7 linked regions of the Homo sapiens genome follow. The protein of the gene in region 3 purifies or fractionates together with the protein of the main gene of each other region. This does not show direct contact. Each region holds a gene or a part of one and is shown on either strand. Other genes may lie near its edges.

What was found.
Region 1: the proteins of TRMT1L (region 3) and TCEA1 fractionate together in Homo sapiens (co-fractionation; one large-scale study listed by BioGRID). This does not show direct contact.
Region 2: the proteins of TRMT1L (region 3) and NTPCR fractionate together in Homo sapiens (co-fractionation; one large-scale study listed by BioGRID). This does not show direct contact.
Region 4: the proteins of TRMT1L (region 3) and ATF1 purify together in Homo sapiens (co-immunoprecipitation; one large-scale study listed by IntAct). This does not show direct contact.
Region 5: the proteins of TRMT1L (region 3) and CRCP purify together in Homo sapiens (affinity purification with mass spectrometry; one large-scale study listed by BioGRID and IntAct). This does not show direct contact.
Region 6: the proteins of TRMT1L (region 3) and POLR3H purify together in Homo sapiens (affinity purification with mass spectrometry; one large-scale study listed by BioGRID and IntAct). This does not show direct contact.
Region 7: the proteins of TRMT1L (region 3) and CFAP97 purify together in Homo sapiens (affinity purification with mass spectrometry; one large-scale study listed by BioGRID and IntAct). This does not show direct contact.

Annotation. Positions count from the first base shown.
Region 1 is NC_000008.11:53,987,949-53,991,448, forward strand, and holds part of TCEA1 (transcription elongation factor A protein 1), read right to left. Parts: intron 312-3,500; coding exon 166-311; intron 1-165. Other genes in the region: LYPLA1-TCEA1 readthrough, read right to left, coding at 166-311.
Region 2 is NC_000001.11:232,971,111-232,974,610, reverse strand, and holds part of NTPCR (cancer-related nucleoside-triphosphatase), read right to left. Parts: intron 1-3,500. UniProt on the Homo sapiens protein: Has nucleotide phosphatase activity towards ATP, GTP, CTP, TTP and UTP. Hydrolyzes nucleoside diphosphates with lower efficiency.
Region 3 is NC_000001.11:185,118,954-185,122,453, forward strand, and holds part of TRMT1L (tRNA (guanine(27)-N(2))-dimethyltransferase), read right to left. Parts: intron 1,557-3,500; coding exon 1,430-1,556; intron 1,319-1,429; coding exon 1,066-1,318; 3' UTR 1-1,065. UniProt on the Homo sapiens protein: Specifically dimethylates a single guanine residue at position 27 of tRNA(Tyr) using S-adenosyl-L-methionine as donor of the methyl groups. Dimethylation at position 27 of tRNA(Tyr) is required for efficient translation of tyrosine codons.
Region 4 is NC_000012.12:50,795,101-50,798,600, reverse strand, and holds part of ATF1 (cyclic AMP-dependent transcription factor ATF-1), read right to left. Parts: intron 2,704-3,500; exon of another isoform or gene 2,693-2,703; coding exon 2,592-2,692; intron 1-2,591.
Region 5 is NC_000007.14:66,135,347-66,138,846, reverse strand, and holds part of CRCP (DNA-directed RNA polymerase III subunit RPC9), read right to left. Parts: intron 1-3,500. UniProt on the Homo sapiens protein: DNA-dependent RNA polymerase catalyzes the transcription of DNA into RNA using the four ribonucleoside triphosphates as substrates.
Region 6 is NC_000022.11:41,534,471-41,537,970, reverse strand, and holds part of POLR3H (DNA-directed RNA polymerase III subunit RPC8), read left to right. Parts: intron 1-3,500.
Region 7 is NC_000004.12:185,201,201-185,205,239, forward strand, and holds the start of CFAP97 (cilia- and flagella-associated protein 97), read right to left. Parts: upstream 2,801-4,039; 5' UTR 2,698-2,800; exon of another isoform or gene 2,272-2,697; intron 1-2,271.

The sequences.
Region 1 (3,500 bases), on a different chromosome or scaffold from region 3:
CTCCCCCTTAACAGACCCGTATCAGCAACAACTTCTCCCCAAGCTAAGCAGCAGTGGGTGGGCTATCCACAGGGTAACACTCATCAAACAGCAATATGGAGTTGGAGATGGCAGTGGTTGTGGGTGGTGACCAAAGGACTGAGAAATAACATGCACTGGACTTACCCCCTGTTCGAAGAGCTGCAGCAAGCATCTCCCTACACTTCAACCGCACAGAATCAGAAGTGCTTGGTGCCCGAGGAAAGGATGAAACATAAGTATCTCGAGCATTTGTCTCATCCTTTCTGTTGCTTACATTGCCGCTGGAAGTACTGAAATACGCACAAACACCCCAAAAAGAAATCAAGAACAATCCTTTCAAAGTAACAATACTACTATCATGCTGTAAAAACAAAATTTGGGGTCTAAATAAATGACACAGTATCTCAGTGACCTTTATGTGATGGAAAAAAAATTGCCTGCATACAGATTAAAAAGAAGTTAAAAATTTTACAATTTAGTAAAGTGACAAGTATGCCTTTTTTTTGAACTAAACATTTTATCTTTGATTCTCATTTTAAATATTAAGCAATATTTTTAATAGAGAAAATACCCATTATAGCTCAGTACAATAAATGAAAAGCAATGATCTTGGTATAAGGAGAGGGATGAAGGGATGGGACCAGAGAATGACAGCTTTCTTTTTTGAGACGGAGTCTTGCTCTGTCACCCAGGCTGGAGGGCAATGGTGCAATCTCGGCTCACTGCAAGCTCCACCTCCCAGGTTCACACCAGAGAATGACAGCTTTCAACCAAAACTAGAGATAGAGAGAGAGAATGCTTGAAAAACTCTGTTTCACTGGGCATGGTGGCTCACAGCTGTAATCCCAGCACTTTGGGAGGCCAAGAGAGGCAGATCACTTGAGGCCAGTAGAGTTCAAATCCAGCCTGGGCAAAATGGTGAAACCCCGTCTCTATTAAAAATACAAAAATTAGCTGGGCGTGGTGGCACACGCCTGTAATCCCAGCTACTTGGGAGGCTGAGGCAGGAAAATCGCTTGAACCCAGAGGCAGAGGTTTCAGTGAGCCAAGACTGCACCACTGCACTCCAGCCTGGGTGACACAGCGAGACTCCACCTCAAAAAAAAAAAAGAACAAAAAGAAAAAGGAAAACCTTGTTCCACTTAGACAGTGAGTTCCCCAGTGAGACAAATACCATGTGTACTGATGAGTCATGAGGCTACAAAATGGTGTGTTTCTCCCCAGAAACATCACCTCGATATGAACATTTAGGCAGTTTTATAATTTTCCAGTCAACCTAATCCTTTCAATTGCTTCTGAGTAGCTTCTTACGTTGGATTATCACTAAAATGGGTTCTTTCCAAAATAATCTTCATGATTACAATTAAGCTTTATCACATTGAAAACAGCTGCCATAACCCTTTTCAAAGACTGATTAAATCATCCACCATCCATAGATGTGGTTTGCTGCAATGCTACAAGAACATACTCCCTTGCCTTCTCTCCAAAACATAACCACTGTTAAACTTCACAAACAGGTGCCTGTGGGTCAGACGGACATTAGTACCTTTTAAATTTAGTCAGTTCCTTTTTGAAGCCTTCACTGATTTCCCCCTGTATTCCCAAAATATTGATTCACACAGGTTTGTATATGATAACTTTTCATACATTTTCTTCTCTATCAGACTGAGTTTCTCAAGAGCAAAAACTAGGATTTACTTTTCTTTGTATTTTCATTATGTAGCATAATGCCTCTCAGTGATAAATGAATGAGCAAACTAATGCTTAAAAACCCATTTATTATTTTTTTTTTTAAGACTCCAGCCTGAGCAACTGAGCAAGACTTTTCACAGTGGTGAAGAGAGCAAGAGTTGTGCAGTGGTGCCATCACAGCTCATGCAGCTTTGAACTCCTGGGCTCAAGCAATCCTCCTGCCTCAGCCTCCTGAGTAACTAGGACTACAGGTGCATGCCACCATGCCCAGTTAATTTTAAAAATATTTTTTGGCCGGGCAAGCTGGCTCATGCCTGTAATCCCAGGAGTTCAAGAACAGCCCGGACAAAATAGTGAGACCCAGGGTCTACAAAAAGAGTTTTAAAAATTTGCCAAACATGGTGGTATGCACCTGTGGTCCTAGCTACTTGGGGGCTGAAGTAGGGGGCTCGCTTGAGACTGAAAGGTTGAGGCTGCAGAAAGCCTTGACTACGCCACTGCACTCCATCCTGGGTAAAAGAGCAAGACTCTGTCTCCAAAAAAAAAAAATAATCCAACAAACAAACCTTTTTTTTTTGGTAGAGAAAGGGTCTATGTTGTCCAGGCTGGTCTCAAACTCCTGACCTCAAGTGATAATTCCGCCTCGGCGTCCTAAAGTGCTTGAGCCACCGTGCCAGGCCCCAAAACTCATTTCTTTTCTTTTTTTTTTTTTTTTTCTTTTGAGACAGTCTTACGCTGTCACCCAGACTGGAGTGCAGTGAAACAACCATGGCTTACTGCAGCCATGACCCCCAAACTCAGACGGTTCTCCTGCCTCAGCCTCCCAAGTAGCTGGGACCACAGGCATGTGCCATCACACCTGTCTAATGCTTTTTATTACTTGTAGAGACAGGGCCTCCCTATGTTGCTCAGGCTAGTCTCAAACTCCTGGGCTCAAGTGATCCCCCTACCTTGACCTCCCAAAAGTGCTGACATTACAGGTGTGAGCCACCACACCCAGCCAAAAACCCAGTTCTTAAACACTTTGATTAAATGCTTTTGCTTCTGTGTCTGTAGCCAAATGCTCCACAGGAACCAAGGGAAATTGCCCATATGGGCTGAGGGAAACTTTTCCTCACTAGTTTCACTACTGCTGGTCCCACTTCCTACATTCTGATCCTTCCTTTCTAAGCATTTAAACACATTACTTTCTTCTTAAATTCTTGCACCCAAAATATAAAATCCTGCTTAGCTACAAGCAACTTAGATTTAACCTTCTATCTTTCTTTACATGACTCCTCAAAATTCATTTCTCAATCCTCCTGTATTTCTGTGTGTGTTGGGGCGGGGATGGGGTGTAGATAGATACCAATCAGTTACTTTATCAGACTTCACATACAGTAATTTTCTTTTGCAGACAGGCTCTATACCTACACGTCAAGCACGTAAAACTGATAAAAGACAACGAGAGGCCAGGCGCAGTGGCTCACGACAGTAATCCCAGTACTTTGAGAGGCCAAGGTGGGTGGATCACTTGAGGTCAGGAGTTCGAGACCAGCCTGGTCAACATGATGAAACCCCATCTTTACTAAAAGTACAAAAATTAGCTGGGTGTGTTGACGTGCACCTCTAATCCCAGCTACTCGGGAGGCTGAGACAGGAGAATCGCTTGAACCTGGGGGACAGAGGTTGCAGTGAGGCAAGATTGTGCCACTGCATTCCAGCCTGGGCAACAGAGCAAGACTCCGTCTCAAAAAAAAAAATAAAAACAAGGCTGGGCGCGGTGGCTCAGGCCTGTAATCCTAGCA
Region 2 (3,500 bases), about 48 Mb from region 3:
AGGAGGTGCCAAAGATTGTATCAGTGAGATTTTATTTTCCTTCTCAGGTACTGTTCTTTCTTTTCTTTTTTCAGCTATTTTTTTTAACACATCAGAGAATGTTATCGTTTTGCCTCAACTGTCAAACATAATTCTTCAAAAGTCAACAGAGGAAGAAAAGCCCACTACACTCACTCAGAGTTTTACTCTTCCCATTGTTCTTTCTTCCTTCCTGATGTTCCAGGTCTCCTTTTACCATTTCCTTTCTGATAAGAGAACTTCCTTTGGCCATTCTTTTAGAGCAGTTCTATTATGACAAATTCTCTTAGTTTTCCTTCATCTGTGAATGTCTTATAGAATTATGAGTCGACAGTTGTTTCAACACTTGGAAAATGTACCACCTCCTTCTGGCCTTCATGGTTTCTCCTGAGAAATCTGCTGTCACTCATATTGTTTTTACCCTATAGGTAAGGTGCTGCTTTCCTTTCACTGCTTTCAAGACTTTAATTTTCATAAGTTTGACTATGGTATGTCTTGGCATGAATTTGAGTTTATCCTCTTGGGGTTCACTGAAAATGTAGGTTTATGTCTTTTGCCAAATATGACAAAAATGCAGCCATTACTTCTTCAAACACTTTTTCAACCCCACACTCATCTCCTGTTACTACAATGATGTGAATGTCACATCTTTTGTTATAGTCCCACAGGTCCCAGAAACTCTGTTCATTTTGTTCATTACTTTTTCTTTTAAGTCTGCTCTTTGTCAGGTAATTTCTATTGTTCTACCTTCAAGTTCACTGATTCTTTCTCCTGTCATCTCTATTCTGCTGATGAGCCCATTCAGTGACTTTTTTATTGGCTATTGTATAGTTCTAAAATTTTCATTTGATTCTTCTATCTTCTAGGTTTTTGCTGAAACTTTCCAGTTCTTGCTGAGACTATTTTTCATTTGTTTCATGTGTATCTGTAATTTTATGAAGCATTTTTATGATAGCTGTTTTCAAATCCTTGCCCTATAATTCCACTATCTGAGTCACCTTGCTGTTGAGATCTGCTGATGGCCTTTCCTCACTCAGGTTTAGGTATTCCTGATTCTTGGCATGACAAATGATTTTCAGTTGTGTCTGTTGTGTTGTTCCTTAGGTCCTTAGGTTCCTAGCCAGTCTGTCTTTTTCTCTTCACTTTTCAGGTCTTCTTATGCTTGTATTATAAATAACATCCTTAGCAGGAAAAATAAACACAAGTGTGTCTACTCTATCTTGTCTAAAACTGGAAGAGTTCTCGGGTGTTTTTGGAAAGTACTCTGTTCACCCAACGTTATGAAGAATAAGTCAAGATAATATTACTAATTTGTGTGGTATATTTCCCCCATATCATGAGCTCAGTCTCATCTTCACACTATGCATATTCATTGGAAAGTACTCTGTTCACCCAACATTGTGAAGAATAAGTCTAGATAATATTACTAATTCGTGTGGTACATTTCCCCCATATCACGGGCTCAGTCTCATCTTCACACTACGCATGTTCAGCTGGTAGCAAGGGGACGCTGACTCTGACCCCTTTTCATAGCTCATTTTCTTACCTGGAATGTTCTCCCTTCTTTTTCCCATTTCCTCCTTCAAGAGCCAACTCAAGAACCCCTTCCTTTGGACACCTCTCCACTACCACTGCTCACATAGATCTCTCCCTTCCCTGCCCCTAGATTTTGATTGCCCCATGGTCTGTTTTTCTTGAGGGCAGAGATCATGCCTCACAGGTGCCTAAACGATGGACTAAGTACTGAATGTGAAGGGCACTCTCAAAAATGGATTCGGATACTTTATTGCATGTGAGCAATGGAAAGAACCCAAAAATATATCTAATCCAACACCTAAGTTTGCAGATAAAGAAAATGAGGTTCTTGGCCAGGCACAGTGGCTCATGCCTATAATTCCAACACTTTGAGAGGCTGAGGCAGGCAGATTGTTTCAGCTCTTCAATTCGAGATCAACCCCGGGCAACATGGTGAAACCCCATCTCTACAAAAAATGCACAAATGAGTCAGGTGTGGTGGCACATGCCTGTAGTCCCAGCTTTTTGGGAGGCTGAGGTGGAGGATGGCTTCAGCCTAGGAGGCAGAGGATGCAGTGAGCCAAGAGCATGCCACTGCACTCCAGCATGGGCCACAGAGACTAACCTTGTCTCAGAAAAAAAGAAAATGAGGTTCTTGATTTATAAAACTGGAAAAGGCCAGGCACAGTGGCTCACACCTGTAATCCCAGCACAGATTACTCTGGGCAACAGAGCAAGACTCTGTCCCTCCCCCTCAAAAAAATAAGTTAAATAAAAAATAAAATAAAACTGAAACAGAAGGACCACACAAACCCCAAAGCAACAACAACAAAAAAAAACAGGGTATGTCAGCCCCTATCTCTTACTTAATTAACTCAAAGCTAATTGTTTTATTTACAGATCATTAGAAGCAATGATTATCTTGCCTGGAGAATAATTTTGAGTCTCAGAGAGCGGAAGAAATGTGGTATGATCCTAAGACACAAAGTCTGTTTCTGGGCATCACAGTCAGCTCCTTTCAATCCTTCCTTAGGACTGTTAGATTAGATTAGTTTGTGGAACTAGCCAATCCCTGGAGTCTAACACTAGCAATTTCCCGGTCTTCCAGCCTAGAAGCTATCTGACCTCAAAACTAATTTTCTTTCATGATCTTTCACTATTCATTGCCTTGATTTCCATGGAAACTCTATAATCACAACCAAAAATGTAAAATAAGAGAAGACGACATGAAACTCTGAAGAACCCCACAGACTTTTCAGGGCTCTCAAATGTCACCTCCTTGAAGAGACCTTCCCTGATCGCCCTTGCTACTCCTGCCCCCAACTACCACATTGCCTGGTTTCTTTATTTTTGCCTTTATCAGTATCTGAAATTGCTTAACTTATCTGTTCACATTTTTGGTATTCAGCTCCTCCATTAGAATGTAAGCTCCATGAAAGCAGCGCCTTGGTCAGTCTCGTTCACCACAGTATCCCAAGACTTAGAATGACACCTAGCATACAGTAGGTGCTCAATCACTATTGACCAAATGAAGGAATAAATAAATCAATAAAGAAGCGCATACATTTTTCCAAGTCTGGCTGGTCTAACCCTAATGGCTGTTTACCACCACACTCCAGGATTCTTGGTGGCAACATGTGGATACTCCAGGATTCTTTGGTGGCAACATGTGGATACTGCCAGTGGGCCAAGGTGACATTTCACTCAGTGATTAAAATGATCATGAGGAAGGTGCTCACGGGTACTCACTCTCCACTCCCCCTGATAGGAGTGGCCCTGCCTGCCTGACTTGTTCACTTGGCACTTGCAGGGCCAGGGAGCTTTTAAACTGGGGGTGGGGAGTGAGGTGTGTGAGCAGAGCTCAGCCAAGAGCACAGCTACCACTGACTCAAAGAAACTAAGGGTAGGGGTTGGGGAGAAGCAATATCTGACTGAGAGGAAAACAGAGGGACAACAGGGAAAGAAAG
Region 3 (3,500 bases):
AATCCTTGAGACAAAAACCCAAACTTTATACCAAATCCTTTCATCCAAAATCTTATATTCAAATGAAGTGAGAATTCCATTAAGGAAACAATATTTTTTTTTTCAACTAATTTTTATAGTTACATCAGCCTGGGCTAATTATACAGAAAATTTATACAAATACACACAAAACCAAAAATACCAAACCAAGCAACAACAAAAAAACAACCCCCAAACCCAAAAACTCTCATTCCATAAGGTGACAAATTTTACTTCTGAGAGGTAGTACAACCAACCAAATGAATACTGTACGTGCATTAACTGAGGCACTTAAGATCACCCAACCTTTTTAATTTATAACCAAATCTCTCCTCTTCAGGATTTCAGTGCTCATGAACAAGTATTATATTAGATTAATGGTCTCAATTTATTCTGACAAAATCTTACTTTGAAGTTTAGTCATTTAGACCTTAAAGTTACAAAAATAAAGTATTTCTATCTCAGGCAAGTATTTAATTTCTTAAAAGCTAGTAAGAAATGAAAAGATCAATGTGGAGAGAAGTATGATTTCTTAAAAATGGGTACATATTTTAGTTTTTTAATTGTGAAATACATTATGACCTGTAAGAACATTGTTCTTCCTATTCTATTCAGGGTCATTTTAACATGTGAGCCTTCAGCTTCATTTTGTACACTACAAACAGGAAAACATAAACATCATGAATCAGTTTAGGCAGAGATGTGATTAAGAATTGTAAAAGATGGCTTTCATAACATACATAAAATTCCAAACACTTTGCATGTGAAAATTTTCTGAATTATTAAGCAGTAGGGTGATCTCAGTGAGACTTGGCTTCATATGAAATGTTTCCATTAAAATTTTAAGTTTGCCTTAAAACAAAAAAAAACTTGGAAAGCAAAGCTCCCAAACCAGCTAAGTTAGAAACTGCTCAGTTTCTGAATGAAAATGACACTGTTTTTTATTTTTACTCTACTGAATTGAAAGAACAGAAAAAGAACTACAGTTGGTATAGAGAACTATTAGGCCATCTATACAGACACCTGAGAACCAATTCTTCTCTACGTTTACCATCTTCTGCAGCCACTTGCTTCTGCTTTGTCATTCACTGACATTTCAACTCTTTCAGTTACTGTATCTTCAGATGCTGACTGGACATGGCTTTCTGACTGTCCTCCAGTGTAGGTGGGGGTGCTGTACTTTAAAAGGATAGATTTAAACTGCATCAGAGGTGCATCTGTGCGTACACCCATTGGGTCAAAATGAGTTCGGCTTACTCGAAAGCCTGCTTGAGATAAATAGCACAAAAACTTTTTTAACCTGCAAAAAGGAAAGGAAAGAAAAAATAATCAGGTTCTTGTATTTTTATTTAAATCACAATATTATTAAAATATAAAATATATATACTTTGTCATTCACTGGGTGTCTTACTTTGGCATATTCATTCCTTTAATGCTGTGTCTGTGAATGTTGTAATAAAAGGGAGGATGTTCAGTACTGACATCAGTCTTTTGCTTCTTGCCTAAATTTGTGATCATTTCATTACTTTTTCTCTTTCCTGCAACATACACATACAAAGTTAGCATGCTCTTAAAAATTACAAGCCAAATACTTTTATAACTATATATTTATCTCAAGTATAAATCCTGACACATTATTTCAACCTGACTATCCAATCTTAATTCTTATAATTTATTCTATTTTCACGGTCCTTCACTTATGTAATTTTCATATTAAACTGCTGAATCAGAACTTCCTTTCTACCTTCTTCAACTTCAAGCCACACTCTATTTCGTCTCCTGTAGGAAGCCATCTGTCAATCTGGGGCTAGTCACTTCATACATTTCATTGTTGTTAATACTACACTACACTACTCAGAGTTTGATTAAGTTGTCATTTTTTTTTCTTTTCTTATAGTTCCTTAATGTGTGTAAGTCCTTTCTCCCCAAGTTATATTCTAAGTTCCTAAGGACAATGTCTTTCATTTTTATACCTGTATTTCTACTGAGTGATCAGTATTGGATACACAGTGGGTCTTTAGTAATCACAAAACAAAGAAAAACAACACAAAGTCTTGAGAGTTTGGACACAGAAACTGACATAAGGTCAATGTTATGATCTCATTGCCTATTTCTCATCACAGCACTTAGTTTTTTCATTTTGAGTGAAAGGAGGCCAGCTAAGATTCTAGAACTGTATCCTTCCAAAAATCACAACATGAAAACAACTGAGATATCCAATACTATAATGAGATTTTGCCTGGTGTTCAACCCTTGATTATTTATATATGAACGTTATGGTCAAATCTTATCTCTTCAGGGAAAGTAATTAACATCTGCTTAAGCAAAATATTCAGAAGCTGCCAGGAGCAGTAGCGTACACCTGTGTAACTGGGACCCAAGTCCCAGCTACTTGGGAGGCTGAGGTGGCAGGATGGCTTGAGCCTAGGAGTTTGAGTCTAGCCTGAGCAACACAGTGAGACCCTGTCTCTTAAAAAAAAAAAAGTATTGAAAAGGCAAAGTTGATACATAAAAATAAATTACATTCAAAATAAATATAAATTATTGCTGAACTGTTGCCTCTTTACATAAAAACATAAAGCAAAAAGGACAACCTGGGATCCATCCATCAAATCAGAATTATAATTTGAAATCTAAAATTTGAAACTGCATGAAATCTAATGAGGCACCTAGTCAAAGGATAGATATCCAGATTTAGTACAAGTTCTAGGAGCATCTGAGGCAAAAAATCTGATGTAATACGTTAATAGTGAGTATCATCAGCAGTATATAGATTTTTTTTTTTGGCCTGGTAATTTCTTCTTTTTTAAAAAATAATTTCAACTTTCTTTATCGATTAAAGGGTATATGTGTAGGTTTGTTACGTGGGTATATTGTGTAATGCTGGGGTTTGGGGTCCTAACAACCCCAGCACCCATGCAGTGGGCATAGTACCCAACAGGTGGTTCTTCAGCCCAGGCCACATCCCATCCCTCCCCCATCTAGTAGTCCCCAGTGTCTATTATTCCCATCTGATGTCTGTGAGTACCCAAAGTTTAGCTCCCACTTGTAAGTTAGAACATGGGGCTTTGGTTTTCTGTTCTTGCATTAGTTTTATTAGGATAACGGCCTAGAGTGCCATCCATGTTGCTGCAAAGAGCATGATTTTGTTCTTTCTTATGGCTGCATAGTATTCCTTAGTACATATGTTCATTTTCTTTATCCAGTCCATTGATGATGGGCACCTAGGTTGATTCTGTCTTTGCTACTGTGAATAGCACTGCAATGAACATATAACGTATCTTTGACAGAATGAATTATTTTCCTTTGGGTTTGCATAGTACTATCATTTTAAGATTTTATGTGTTGACCAATGGTCTTAGAATAACCATATAATTTAAAAGTTATAGAAGAGCCCACAAAAATTAGTCTAATTTCCTTAATTTACTTATGAGAAAGGCTCACAGATTAAAAACAAATTTTTTTTTTGAGATGGAGTTTGG
Region 4 (3,500 bases), on a different chromosome or scaffold from region 3:
ATGGTGACTCACGCCTGTAATCCCAGCACTTTGGGAGGCCAAGGTGGGCAGATCACGAGGTCAGGAGATTGAGACCATCATGGCTAACACAGTGAAACCCCGTCTCTACTAAAAAATACAAAAAATTAGCCAGGTGTGGTGGCGGGCGCCTGTAGTCCCAGCTACTCGGAAGACTGAGGCAGGAGAATGGCATGAACCCAGGAGGCGGAGCTTGCAGTGAGCCGAGATTACTCCACTGCACTCCAGCCTGGATGACAGAGCGAGACTCCATCTCAAAAAAAAAACAACAACCATGAAACTACCCAAATTAATCATTATTACTATTGTTCTAAAAAGCCAATGCTAACTGAAATGAATTGTCTTTGTTCACCATACTTTCTCACATTTATATTCCTTTCATTTTCTTCTTCCTGAAGTATACACTTAAGTAGTTTCTTTTTTCTTTTTTTTTAGAGATGGAGTCTCACTCTGTCACCCAGGCTGGAGTGCAGTGGCACGATCTCAGCTCACTGCAGCCTCCGCCCCCTGGGTTCAAGCTGGGACTACACGCATGTGCCACCATGCCTACCTAATTTTTTTATTTTTAGTAGAGATAGGGTTTCTCCATGTTGGCCAGGCTCGTTTCGAACTCCTGACCTCAAGTGATCCACCCGCCTCGGCCTCCCAAAGTGCTGGGATTACAGGCGTGAGCCACTGTACCCAGCCTCCTTAAGTAGTTTCTTAAATCAGTTTGAAAATGATTATTATTTCACCGTCATTTTTGAAAGACTGTTCAGTAGGCACAGAATTCCAGGTCAAAAGTTACTTTCTCTTTGAATTTAAATATTGGAGCCTGAGTACAGTGGCTCATGCCTGTAATAGCAACACTTTGGGAGGCTGAGGTGGGAGGATCACTTGAGCCCAAGAGTTTGACACCAGCCTGGTCAACATAGTGGGACTCTATCTCTACCAAAAATTAAAAAAAATTAGGTGGGCATCATGGCATATGCCTATAGTCCCAGGTACTCAGGAGGCTGAGGAGCTGACCCCAGGAGGTTGAGGCTGCAGTGAGCTGTGATCACACCACTGCACTCCAGCCCAGGCAACAGGGTGAGACCTCCGTCTCAAAAAAACATGTAATAATTTAAAGATAAAAATAAGGATTTTAGTTCATTGTCTTATACTGTACTTCAAAAATCTGTTGTCAGCTTACTGGTCCTTCCTTTCTAGGTAATTGGTCTTTTCACTTGGAAGCTTTTAGCTTTTAAGATCTCAGGTTTATCCTTGGTGTTCTCCAGTTTTACTTTACAACATACACCTAGATGTAGGTTTCTATTAATTTATCTTGTTTGGGACCTTGCTTTCTTATGCTGAGAAATTCATATCCTGGAAATTGCAGTCATTATCATTTTCTCTCCTGGAGAGACTAGAAGCTGGAAGTGCCCTTCCCTCTTCTCTCCTTTTATCTATGTATGTTGTGTACTGGACCTTCTCATTCTGTGTTCTATCTTAACTTTGTCTTTCTGTGTTCCATTCTAGGTAATCTACTCAGAGCTGTATCCTCAGGTTCTCTCATTTTGTCTTCAGTTACGGGTATTAACCCCTTATCAGATAAGTGGTTTGCAAATAATTTTTTCCCAGTCCGTAAGTTGCCTTTTCATTTTGTTGCTTTGTTTCCTTTGCTACACAGACACGTTTTTTAGTTTGACGTAGTCCCATTTATTTATTTTTTTGTAGCCTAAGCTTTTGGTGTGATATCCAAAAAATCATTGCCAAGGTCAATGTCGAAGAGCTTATCGCCTATGTTCTCTTCTAGGATTTTTATGGTTTCAGGTCTTAACATTTAGGTCTCTTATCCATTTGGTGTTGATTTGTGTAATGGTGTAAGATAAAGATTAAATTTACATTTTTTTTTTTTTTTGAGACAGAGTCTTGCTCTGTTGCCCAGGCTGCAGTGCAGTGGCACAATCTCGGCTCACTGCAACCTCCGCCTCCCAGGTTCAAGTGATTCTCCTGCCTCAGCCTCCCAAGTAGCTGGGATTACAGGTGTGCACTACCACACCCGGCTAATTTTTCTATTTTTATTAGAGACGGGGTTTCACCATGTTGGCCAGGCTGGTCTCAAACTCCTAACCTCAGGTGATCTGCCCGCCTCAGCCTCCCAAAGTGCTGGGATTACAGGCATAAGCCACTGCATCCGGCCAAAGGTCCAATTTCATTTTTTCTTGGAGACAGGATCTTGCTCTATCACCCAGGCTGGAGCACAGTGACACAATCACAGATCATTGTAACTTCAAACTCCTGGGCTCAAGCCATCTTCCCGCCTTAGCCTCTAAGTAGATGGGACTACAGGCGTGCGCCACTATGTCCAGCTAAGGTTTGTATTTTTTGAAGAGACAGGGTCTTGCCATGTTGCCCAGGCTGGTCTTGAACTCCTGGGCTCAAGCAATCCTACCTCGGCCTCCGAAAGGGTTGGGATTATAGGCGAGGGCCAACCAATTTCATTCTTAACACTGACGCGTGCTAACTTCTTTAGTGTACTTTGCACAGCACCTCTTGAACTCATTTGGTACTATCATAACATGCAGGGCTTCATACAAGAGAGTACTCACCTGTAAGATGGGCGCCGTGCTAGGATCCCGTGGGCTTTCTGTGAGGAGCCTATGCTGTCGGATGAGTCCTGGGACTCCTCACTTTCTGATAAAGATGATACCTAAAAAAGAACTGGCATTAACATGATGAACAATGCAGGTGGGAAAAGAAACAACTGAATTTTTACTTTTAGAAAAAAATGATCTGTCTCCTGCCACTCCAATTCATTTGTACATTAAATCTAAAGTCTAAAAGAAAGGAACAAAAGGAAAAGGAAAAATGAGAAAGTTTATTCCAGGAGCCCAACCTATTAAAGGAATATCAAATATAGCAGGCCCAGAGCTGAGAATAAAGTCTGTCCCCCAAATGAAGCAGTACTATTTTACCAGAGTTAAAAAGACCAGGCTCTGATGTCATTCTCCACCCTATTTCTACACTGATGCACATTACTTAAAAGTGTTGTTTTATTACTAATCTACCTGACATGCTAAGTTTGAAAAACCTGTTATATATTCAACTGCTGACATTGAGACGAATATTAAATATACAAGCCTGTAGGTCTGGGAAGAGGTCTGGGCTAGATACATAAATTTTGGAGGTCTAGCTTTTTAGAGTCCTTAAAGCCATGAGACTGGATGAGCTCATAGGGGTAAATAGAAGAGGACTGAGGACTAACCTCAGGAACACTAAGAGACTGGATGAAGAGGAGGAACCAGCAAATGAGACTAAGGAGTCACCAGTAAAGAAGAGAACCAAATGATTGAGCTGTCCATGGAAAACTAGTGAAGACAGCATACTGAGGAGAAAAGAATGATCAACCATGTCCAATGCTGTTTACAAGCTGAGATAAAATAAAGACTGAGAACAGACCATTCGATTTAGCAAGGTGGAGGTCACTGGCAATGGCAGGTATAAATATATGCCATTTT
Region 5 (3,500 bases), on a different chromosome or scaffold from region 3:
GACCAAAGACTTGAAAATCTTTTTTGAAATTTATTTAAATTTTTTTTTTTTTTTGAGACGGAGTCTCGCTCTGTCCCCCAGGCCGGAGTGCAGTGGCGCATCTTGGCTCACTGCAAGCTCTGCCTCCCGGGTTCACGCCATTCTCCTATCTCAGCCTCCCGAGTAGCTGGGACTACAGGCGCCCGCCACCATGCCCAGCTGATTTTTTTTTTTTTTTTTTTTTTTAGTAGAGACGAGGTTTCACCGTGTTAGCCAGGATGGTCTCGATCTCCTGACCTCGTGATCTGCCAGCCTCGGCCTCCCAAAGTGCTGGGATTACAGGCGTGAGCCACCGCGCCCAGGCTAGTGAAGTGAAGCAGTAGGAGTAGAGGGGGATAAAAAAAATCTTAACAGCAGCCAGAGGAAAATGACACATTAGGGTTAGAGTGATAGCGGATTAAAATTTTTTTTTAATTAATTATTTTTCAAAATATAGAGATGGAGTCTCACAATGATGCCCAAGCTGGTCTCAAACTCCTGGCCTCAAGTGATCTTCCCGCCTCAGCCTCCCAAAGTGCTGAGATAATAGGCATGAGCCACTGCATCCAGCCTGATCACAGATTTCTAATCAAAAACTGTGACAGCCAGAAGTCACTGAAATGACATCTTAAAAGTTCTGAAGGAAAAGATCAATCAACCCAGTGAAATTATCCTTCAGGAATGAAAGGAAATAATGACATTCTCAGCTAAATGAAAATAAGAGAATTTGTAGCCAAGAGACCTGTTCTCAGAAAAGTGCCAAAGGCAGTTCTTCCTGGTGAAGTAAATGATAAAAAGGACGCAGGGCACTTCAGGAATAGAGAGGAAAAGAAATGATGACAAAAAGACTATTTTTGTTCTCTTAAGTTCTTTAAAATATGTAAGAATACAGAAAGTCAATGTAAAAACACTACTAATAGTATGCAGATTATATGTTTCAATGTATGTAGATTATATGTTATAAATACAACCATAACACAAAAAGAAGGTAAAGAGACTTATATACACCAACTGGTAAAATATTAACTCTGGACTATAAATGGTCAGGCATGCATATTATTAACCCTACTAGTAACCTAGTAGGGATCCCTTCAGTAACTACTAAAAACAAAAATAAACAAAAAGATACAGCCAAAAGGCTACAAATCTTTTTAGCTTTATAGATATAGAAAAAGCAAGTGACAACATTCAACATCCAATCTCAGCAATCTGAACTTCCTAAACCTGGTAAAAGACATTCATGGAAAACCTAAACTAGCATCATACTTAATGGTGAAGGACTGACTGTTTTCCCTTAATATCAGGGACAAGATGAGGATGTCTGCTCTCACCACTCCTACTCAACATCATCCTGGAGGCCCCAGCCAGGGCAATGAAATAAGAAAAAGAAGGAAAAGCCATACAGATGAGAAAGAAGTAAAACTCTGTTTGCAAATACCACGACTTTCTGCACAGAAAATCCTAAAGAATACACTAAAAAAGTTCCTAGAACTAATAAGTGGATTTATCAAGGCTGGAGGGCATAAGATCAATATAAAGTCAGCTGTACTTCTATATCAGCAATCAACAACTAGAAATGAGCACCATTTACAATAGCACGCAAAATTATGAAATAGGTATAAATCTAAAAAAATTTGTGCAGAACCTGTATGCTACACTGTTTTCATGGACTAGAAGGTTCAGTATTGGCGGGTTGTTTTTTTTTAACCTTTGACTGATCTTAAATTATTATTATTATTAAATTTTTTTTTGAGACAGTCTCGCTCTGTCGCCAGGCTGGAGTGCAGTGGCGCAATCTCGGCTCACTGCAACCTCCATCTCCCAGGTTCAAGTGATTCTCCTGCCTCAGCCTCCCGAGTAGCTGGGACTACAGGCGCCCCCGTCACCACACCCGGCTAATTTTTTGTATTTTTAGTAGAGACGGGGTTTCACCATGTTGGCCAGGATGGTCTTGAACTCCTGACCTCGTGATCCACCTGCCTCAGCCTCCCAAAGTGCTGGGATTATAGGTGTGAGCCACCGTGCCCGTCCGATCTTGAATTATTAATATTGTCAAGATGTCAATTCTCCCCCAAAACTGACCTATAGATGTAAGGCAATCCCAATCAGAATCTCAGCAGGATTTGTTCCAGATATCAACAAGTCAATTCAAAAATGTATACATAGGCCAGGCACGGTGGCTCACACCTGAAATGCTAGCACTTTGGGCAGCCAAAGCAGGAGGATCACCTGAGGTCAGGAGTTCAAGACCAGCCTGGCCAATAGAGTGAAACCCCATCTCTACTAAAAATACAAAATTGGCCAGGCACGGTGACTCACACCTGTAATCCCAGAACTTTGAGAGGTCGAGGTGGATGGATCACCTGAGGTTGGGAGTTCGAGACCAGCCTGATCAACATGGAGAAACCACGTCTCTACTAAAAATACAAAACTAGCCAGGTGTGGTGGCAGATGCCTGTAATCCCAGCTACTGTGGAGGCTGAGGCAGGAGGAATCACTTGAACCCGAAGGCAGAGGTTGCGGTGAGCCGAGATTGCACCATTGCACTCCAGCATGAACTCACAAGAGTGAAACTCCATCTCAAAAAAAAACAAACCAATAAAAAAAAAACGGGCTAGTTTTCTTCTCATGTAAACTCTTGATGTATGACGTTTTCAATTTTAAAAGGTTGAACTCATTCCAGACCAAGAAAAGGAACTGGAAACTACAAGAACTCACAGAAGATGATCAAGCCACTTTTGCCTCAAGCAAACACAAATGTCAAAAGACTTCACTGATCAACTTTATAAAAAGTACTTTAACTTGTCAACCCTACTTTTCATCCAATTTGGTCTGAATTCTGGGAGTGGGGTTGATGCGATATGTCATACAAACTGGGACTCCAAGAAAAGATTTTTTTTTTTTTTTGAGACAGAGTTTTGCTCTTGTTGTCCAGGCTGGAGCGCAAGGGCGCGATCTTGGCTCACCGCAACCTCCGTCTCCCAGGTTCAAGCGATTCTCCTGCCTCAGCCTCCCTAGTAGTTGGGATTACAGGCATGTGCCAGCACGCCCAGCTAATTTTGTATTTTTAGTAGAGATGGGGTTTCTCCATGTTGGTCAGGCTGGTTAGAACTCCCAACCTCAGGTGATCCACCCACCTCAGCCTCCCAAAGTGCTGGGATTACAGGCATGAGCCGCCACACCTGGCCAAGAAAAGATTTTTAAACCCCATTAAGATTTGTTCCTCATGGCACATGTATACATATGTAACAAACTTGCACGTTGTGCACATGTACCCTAGAACTTAAAGTATAATTTTGAAAAAAAAGATAAATAAATAAAAAAAGAAGGAAGAAAGGTCTTCTGCATTTACCCATTCAAACCAGGGTTAGTACTTGATTAATATAATATTTCAATTCTGTCTTGTTTTTTCCCCATTTCTACATTATCACATTTCCTTCCTTTCAAAACAATTTAACTTATTTTACTAATATTTTGAGATC
Region 6 (3,500 bases), on a different chromosome or scaffold from region 3:
AAAAATTAGCCAGGTCTGGTGGTGTACACACCTGTAATCTCAGCTCCCTGGGAGGTGGAGGTGGAGGCAGGAGAATCGCTTGAACCCAGGAGGCCAAGAACACGCCGCTGCACTCCAGCTGGGTGACAGAGAGAGACCCCGTCTCAAAAAAAAAAAGTTGGAGGAAATTCTGTCTATTCAATTGGAAGATTTCTACTGCTGGCTTTTATTAGCCCCCACCCTCATCTGTCCTGAGTCTCTGTTTTCTTGGGAACCAGGTGGGAGGCATGGAGTGATCACAAGGACCTAGATTTGAATTAATTCTGGCTCTGGTCTCCTGGATGGGGACCTTGGGCGGGTACCTCTGCTTCTCTCGGCCTTGGTTTCCTCCTCTGTACAATGGGGTTAACCCTGCAGCTATAAAAGTCCTGTTGAGCACCATGCAGGGTGAACTGTGATTTTGTGGTGGGAACCAATTGCCATGCTTTGAGGCTGATGCCTGACCCCAGGCCCTGTTCCCACTGCTCCCTCTCCTGCAACCCCACAGCCTCACTCAGGGCTGTCACTGAGCCAGTGCTGAAGGGCTCAGCACCAGGTCATGCTGTGCCTTCACCTTTGCTCAGAGGAATATTTATTTGCCTGGGCCTTGGGAGCAGTTGCTTGACCTCTCTGAAACTCGGTTTCCCTATCTGTGCACACAGTATAATAACAGTAATAGAGCCTTCCTCCTTCATCAAATATCTGTGAGGAGTCAACGAGCAAGTCTGAGTGAAGCTGTGGTCTAGCGCCCCGCACGTGGGGAGTGCTCACAGATGATGGCCTTTGTGGCATGGGACCCTGACCCCCACTGGCCAAGTTTATCCCTCGACATTTGGTGCCAGCCCGTGTTCCCCACATCCTCCAAGCCTGGGACCTGCTGTACCCTGCCCCCGCCTGCCCCATACTGATCGGGGGCCCTGCTCTCAGTCTAGAGCAGCGCTCCTTTGTGACCACCTTTAGTTATTTATTTTTTAACATTTTTAAATGTTATATTGATTTGCAAATCGGGCAGCCTCCTCAGCTAGAGTTGGTGCAGAGACACCCCCCACCTTTTTTTTTTTAAAGCCTTTTTTTTTTTTTTTTTTTGAGACAGAGTCTTCTCTGTCACCCAGGCTGGAGTGCAGTGGCACCATCTTGGCTCACTGCAACCTCTCTGCCTCCCGGGTTGAAGCCATTCTCCTGTCTCAGCTTCCCGAGTAGCTGAGATTACAGGTGCCCACCACCACGCCTGGCTAATTTTTGTATTTTTAGTAGAAATGGGGTTTTGCCATGTTGGCCAGAATAGTCTTGAACTCCTGACCTCAGGCGATCCGCCCGCCTTGGCCTCCCAAAGTGCTGGGATTATAGGCATGAGCCACTGCGCCTGGCCTTTTTTTTTTTTTTAAACCTTTTTTGACATGTTTATCATTTATTTCATTTTTTTCTATTGTGGTAAAATATACATAACATGAAATTTACCAATTTAAACATTTTAAGTGTGTAAGTCAGTGGCATTAGGCACATTCATATTCTTATGCAACCTTCACCGCCATCCACCTCCAGAACTTTCATTTTTTTTAAGATGGAGTCTCGCTCTGTCGCCCAGGCTGGAGTGCAGTGGCGTGATCTCGGCTCACTGCAAGCTCCGCCGCCCGGGTTCACGCCATTCTCCTGCCTCAGCCTCCCGAGTAGCTGGGACTACAGGTGCCCGCCACCACGCCCGGCTAATTTTTTTTTGTATCTTTAGTTGAGACGGGGTTTCATCATGTTAGCCAGGATGGTCTCGATCTCCTGACCTCGTGATCCGCCCGCCTTGGGCTCCCAAAGTGCTGGGATTACAGGCGTGAGCCACCGCGCCCGGCCCACCTCCAGAACTTTTTCACGGGGCAGATATGGTGGCTCATGCCTGTAGTCCCAGCACTTTGGGAGTCTGAGGCGGGCGGATCACGAGGTCAGGAGTTCGAGACCAGCCTGGGCAACATGCTAAAACCCTGTCTCTAAAAAATGCAAGAGTTTTACTCTGTCGCCCACGCTGCAGTGCAGTGGTGCAGTCTCGGCTCACTGCAACCTCTGCCTCCCGGGTTCAAGCAATTCTGCCTCAGCCTCCCGAGTAGCTGGGATTACAGGCATGCACCACCATGCTCGGCTAATTTTGTATTTTTAGTAGAGATGGGGTTTCTCCATGTTGATCAGGCTTGTCCTGAACTCCCGACCTCAGGGGATCATCCTGCCTTGGCCTCCCAAAGTGCTGGGATTACAGGCGTGAGCCACAGCGCCCGGCCTGCTCAGCTAATAATTTTTGTATTTTTAGTAGAGACTGGGTTTTGCCATGTTGGCCAGGCTGGTCTCAAACTCCTGGCTTCAAGTGATCCGCCCGCCTCGGCCTCCCAAAGTTCTGGGATTACAGGCGTGAGCCACTGCGCCCAGCTTCCTTCCTCTTCTTGATGGTCCTTTAGACTCATCCTTTCTGACTTTCCAGGCATCCCCTCTGCAGGCTACACATCCCTAGACCTCCAGGTGGGGCTCTTGTGAGATGAACTGCAGATCCAGCACTCTCCTGGCTGACCAGCCTGTTGCTCTGTGTCCTTCTGTTTTTTCACTGAGATATAATTCACATACCACAAAATTCACCCTTTCAAAGCATACAATTTAGTGGCTTTGTATATTAAGAGTTGTGCAACCATCACCACTATCTTTTTTTTTTAATTACATTATCACCATTTTGCAACTCCTTATGAAGACAGATCTCATCAATGATCATTAACTTTTTAGCTTCCCCCAAAGAGAGACAAACAAGCATTATATAGTTCCTGGTGGAAGAACTCAACACCGATTATGAGGCAGTTCTGTTGCTAAACGCTAGGAGTTGAATCTGTTAAAAATTCTAGATGCAAGTTCCAGTTTGGAGGAACTATAGGAATGGAGGAATACAGTGACTGGCACCACAGGCCTCCAGGGGTTATGGTAAGTAGGCAGATATGAGCAGGGCAGGAGAGGGCCCCCTCCCACCAGGAACAACACCCTCATCAGCTAAGCCATCACCACTATCTAATTCCACAATTTTTTTTTTTTTTTTTTTTTGACAGAGTTTCACTCTTGTTGCCCAGGCTGGAGTGCAATGGCGCAGTCTCAGCTCACTGTAACCTCTGCCTCCTGGTTTCAAGCAATTCTCATGCCTCAGCCTCCCAAGTAGCTGGGATTATAGGCACCCAATACCACGCCTGGCTAATTTTTGTATTTTTTTAGTAGAGACGGGGTTTCACTATGTCGGCCAGGATGGTCTTGAACTGCTGACCTCAGGTGATCCGCCCGCCTCGACCTCCCAAAGTGCTGGGATTACAGACTTGAGCCACCGTGCGCGGGGCCATTCCACAGCGTTTTTATCACCCTACAAAGAAACCCCGCCCAGTAGCAGTCACTGCTAATCCTGTCCTTCACCCAGCCTCTGGCAGCCACTTAACTGCTTTCTGTCTCTATGGATGTGGTTCTGGACACTGTACATG
Region 7 (4,039 bases), on a different chromosome or scaffold from region 3:
CTGTAATCCCAGCTACTTGGGAGGCTGAGGCAGGAGAATCTCTTGAACCCAGGAAGCGGAGGTTGCAGTGAGCCCAGATCACACCACTGCACTCCAGCCCAGGCGACAGAGCAAGACTCCGCCTCAAAAAAAAAAAAAAAAAAGTTCTACTCTGGATAAAATGCTGTCAAGCAGCATCACAAGCTACAGAAATCTTTTGTGAAAAGAAGTCAATCAATAAAGCAAAGTTAATCATTGTCTTATTTTAAGAAATTGCCACAGCCATCCCAACCTTCAGCACTCAGCACCCTGATCAGTCAGCCGCCATCAACAGTGAGGCAAGACCCTCCACCAGCAAAAAAAAATTACAACTCCCTGAAGGCTCAGATGATTGACAGCATTTTTTAGCCATAAATTATTTTTTAGATAACGTATGTACATTTCTTAAGCATAATACCATTGTACCCTTAACAGACCACGGTATAGTGTAAACATAACTTTTATATGCACTGGGAAACCAAAAAATTCATGTGACTCGCTTTATTCCAAGATTTAATTTATTGTGGTGGTCTGCAAGCAACCAAAATATCTCCAAGGTATGCCTGTATTTACCGTCCCATAGTTTCAATCCCTAGAGGTCTAACCCTCCACCTGGTTTTATGATCTCTTCATGTCGTATCTCCACAGTTTATCATCTTTTAAACACCGTATAGAAACTTTCTGGCCTATCCACTTCTTTTCTAGGAAAGCCCTGTGTCATTGTAAAAATTAACATAAAATACGTATGCCTTTTCTCCTGTTAATCTGCCTTACAGCCCCAGCTGCAGACCCAGCTAAAGGAAAAAGGATTTTTGTTTTTCCCCCCATCCCCTACACTTGTCTCCTTGCCAGACTGGGAGCTCCTCGTCACTTCCTCATCTTTATAACCCCAGTACCCAAAGGAGAACCTGATGAATTTAGTCATTCAAAGAATGTTTATCCCACAAAGGAGTTTGGAGTTAGGAGATTTAAGATTGAGCCATGCTCTTTGCTACCCACGAGGGTAGAAAAATCGCCTTGTATGTGTGTGGCTGGGCATGGAGGCTCATGTGCGGTGGCTCATGTTACAGTCTCATGCCTGTAACTTTGGGAGGCCCAGGCAGGCAGACCACTTGAGCCCAGGAGCTTGAGACCAGCCTGGCCAACATGGCCAAACCCCACCTCTACAAAAAATACAAAAATTAGCCGGGCGTTGTAGCTCTCGCCTGTAGTCCCAGCTACTCCGGAGGCTGAGGTGGGAGAATCGCTGGAACCTGGGAGCTGAGGCTGCAGTGAGCCGAGATCAGGCCACTGCACTCCAGCCTAGGCAACAGAGTGAGATCCTATCTCAAAAAACAAACAAACAAAAAAAATCACCGGGTTTCAACCCAGTTTCCTTGATAGTTTCCTGCCATCTTCCCCCACCCCTCCGGAAGCACAAACCACAACTATGCCTTTATCTGCATTTCCATGATAAGGTCATGCAGTCCCCAAGAGCTGGAAGCCAGCTGCCTCCCTAAGTGGTCACAGTTCATGCGCCCTGGTGCATAGTCCGGTGCCTGTGAGACTTTTCAGGTTTAAATTTTAGTTAATAATATCCAACAGAGTTACTGTAAAGATTTCGACACTCATGTGACTTAATTTACAGGAAAATTTACCCAACAATCCCATCCACTGAGCAATTCTTTTGATAACATTTACTACGAGGTAAGTGATTCAATTTACCAGAGAATAAGAAAAATGACTTAATAAAGTAGTTAAGATTCTCTTTACAACAGACTAGGAAAGGATAAAATTAAAGGATAGTTCATCAGACCATAACAACCCTTTGGTGCTCAATCAAGACAGAGTTTTGCCAGGAGGGGCATGGCTCACGCCTGTAATCCCCGGACTTTGGGAGGCCAAGACAGGAGGATCGCTTGAGCCCAGGAGTTGGGAGGCTGCAGTGAGACATGATCGTGCCACTGCACTCCACCCTGGGCCACAGAGCGAGACCCTGTCTCAAAAAATAAAAATAAAAAAAAGAGACAGGTAAGTTTTTATCAAAGCTGCCTGAGAGTCACTGGGCACGCCCCACTTGCCAGGTCCTACAGACCAGCAATAACAAGACTAATGCTTTCACCAAACATCAGGAAAATACACAGAAAAGCACCGGGCACTTTTTAAACTGTCATCTTGTTACTGTGACAATACATTTCTGTAGTTAAACAGCACAGTAGGCCTCCAACAAGATGCCCAATTGGGTACATGAAAATCCCGGCCCAAATTAAACACCTGTTTCCAGGAACGCTAGGCTCTTGTCTACATCCCCTACCGTCCCCGGAAGGCAGATAACCCCTCGGGCCTCGTGGGTTAGGTTCGAGTCCCTACAAGTAGGAAGAAGTCGTCAGGGCCCGGCATGTGGTCGCGGCCCAATCTCAATTTAGGGCTGATCCTGACCCTCAAAGCCACCCGGAACGCGCGAGAGGGCGGGACCCGCCATTCTCACAGGGGACCGGGGTGGAACGGCGCCGCGACCCGCCGCCGCGGGCGCCCCTGTCGTGGGGGCGCGGTCTCCCACCGTCCGCGCAGGCTTCGTTAAACCCACCCCGAGTACTCGCCGCCGCCTGGGCTCCGGAGCGGGGAGACGGATGCGAACGGAAAGGAGCGTGGCGGGCGCCCCGCGAGCAGGGAGCCAGGAGCCGCTCGCGCGCCCCTCACCTGAGAGCCGCGGCCACCACAGCCCCACGCGCGGCGCTGGCGCACTCCCGCGGCCCTGAACGGGCTCCCGGCGCCGCGCGCCCGCGCTTCCGGAGGCGGAGAGAGCGGAAAGGGAAAGGAGGGGCGGCGTGGGGCCCGGCGCTTCGGGAGAGGCGGGGGCGCACGCCGGGCCTCGTGCGGCCCTCGCGGCGGGCGTCACAGAGCGCGGCGGGCAGGCGGCCAGGCCGGGGCTCCACGCGGGCGGAGTGGAGGCCGGGCCAGGGACGCGCACACTAGAAGAGCCGCGGAAGAAGGCGGTCCAGCCCGCGTGGTTGCCATGGCGCCCTAGAGGCGTTACTGCTGCTCCCGGCTGCCTAGGGCGGCGCGGGTAGGCCCCGTTGTTCTCGTGCGTTAATAGGGAAAGCTGCCTTGATTATCTTGTAATTCTCTACCAAACCAAGAATAAAAAAGAACGGCGGCTGTGTGTTTGTGATATTTTCTATCAGCAAATTTCAGTTCATACCACTAGTTAGTTCTGTGGACCAGAGGCTGGTTTCAGAATGGAAAGACCTTTGCCGAGTGGTAAACGAGGTGGGTAGTTAAAACAATCTAAGGTAAAAATGATCTCTGCAGAATATATTGAATACAATAACTTCTCGTTGAACTCTCAGGTATGGTAGGATGATGGCACCCCAAAAATGTGCACCTCCTAGTCCCCACAACACGTGAATATGTCACCTTATGTGGCAGACAGGATTTAGCTGATGTGATTAAGGATCAAAATGGGAAGATTAACCAGGATTATCCAGTGAACCCCATGGAATCACAAAGGTCCTTATAAGATGGAGACAAGAAGTTCAAAGTCAGTAGTGGGAGCTGTGAGCACAGAAGCTAGAGGTTGGAGTGATGTCAGAGGCAATGAGCCAAGGAGTGCAGGTAGAAGCTGCAAAAGGAGGAAACGGATTCTCTCCTGAAACCTCAGGAAGGAACTAGAGCCTGCAAATTTTGATTTTAGACTTAATACCTTAAGCACTGTAAGACAATACACCTGTGTTGTTTTAACTACTGAATTTGTAGTAATTTGTTATAGCAGCAATGGTATACAATCCAGTAGTTAATAAATATTGTTCACATCTAAGTGCAAAGAAGGGTAGGAAATATGGGTCTTACCCTGCCTGTCCCGGGGAGTTCCAGTAAGGATTGTCTATTTTCGTCCTTCACAATGCATTTTGTACTTGTTGGTCTTAATTACCAAAAGTATAATCAATTCTCTTTTTGTTGCCTAAAAGACAGCATTGGCTGGGCGCAGTGGCTCACCCCTGTAATCCCAGCACTTCGGGAGGCCGAGGCGGGTGGGGCCCCC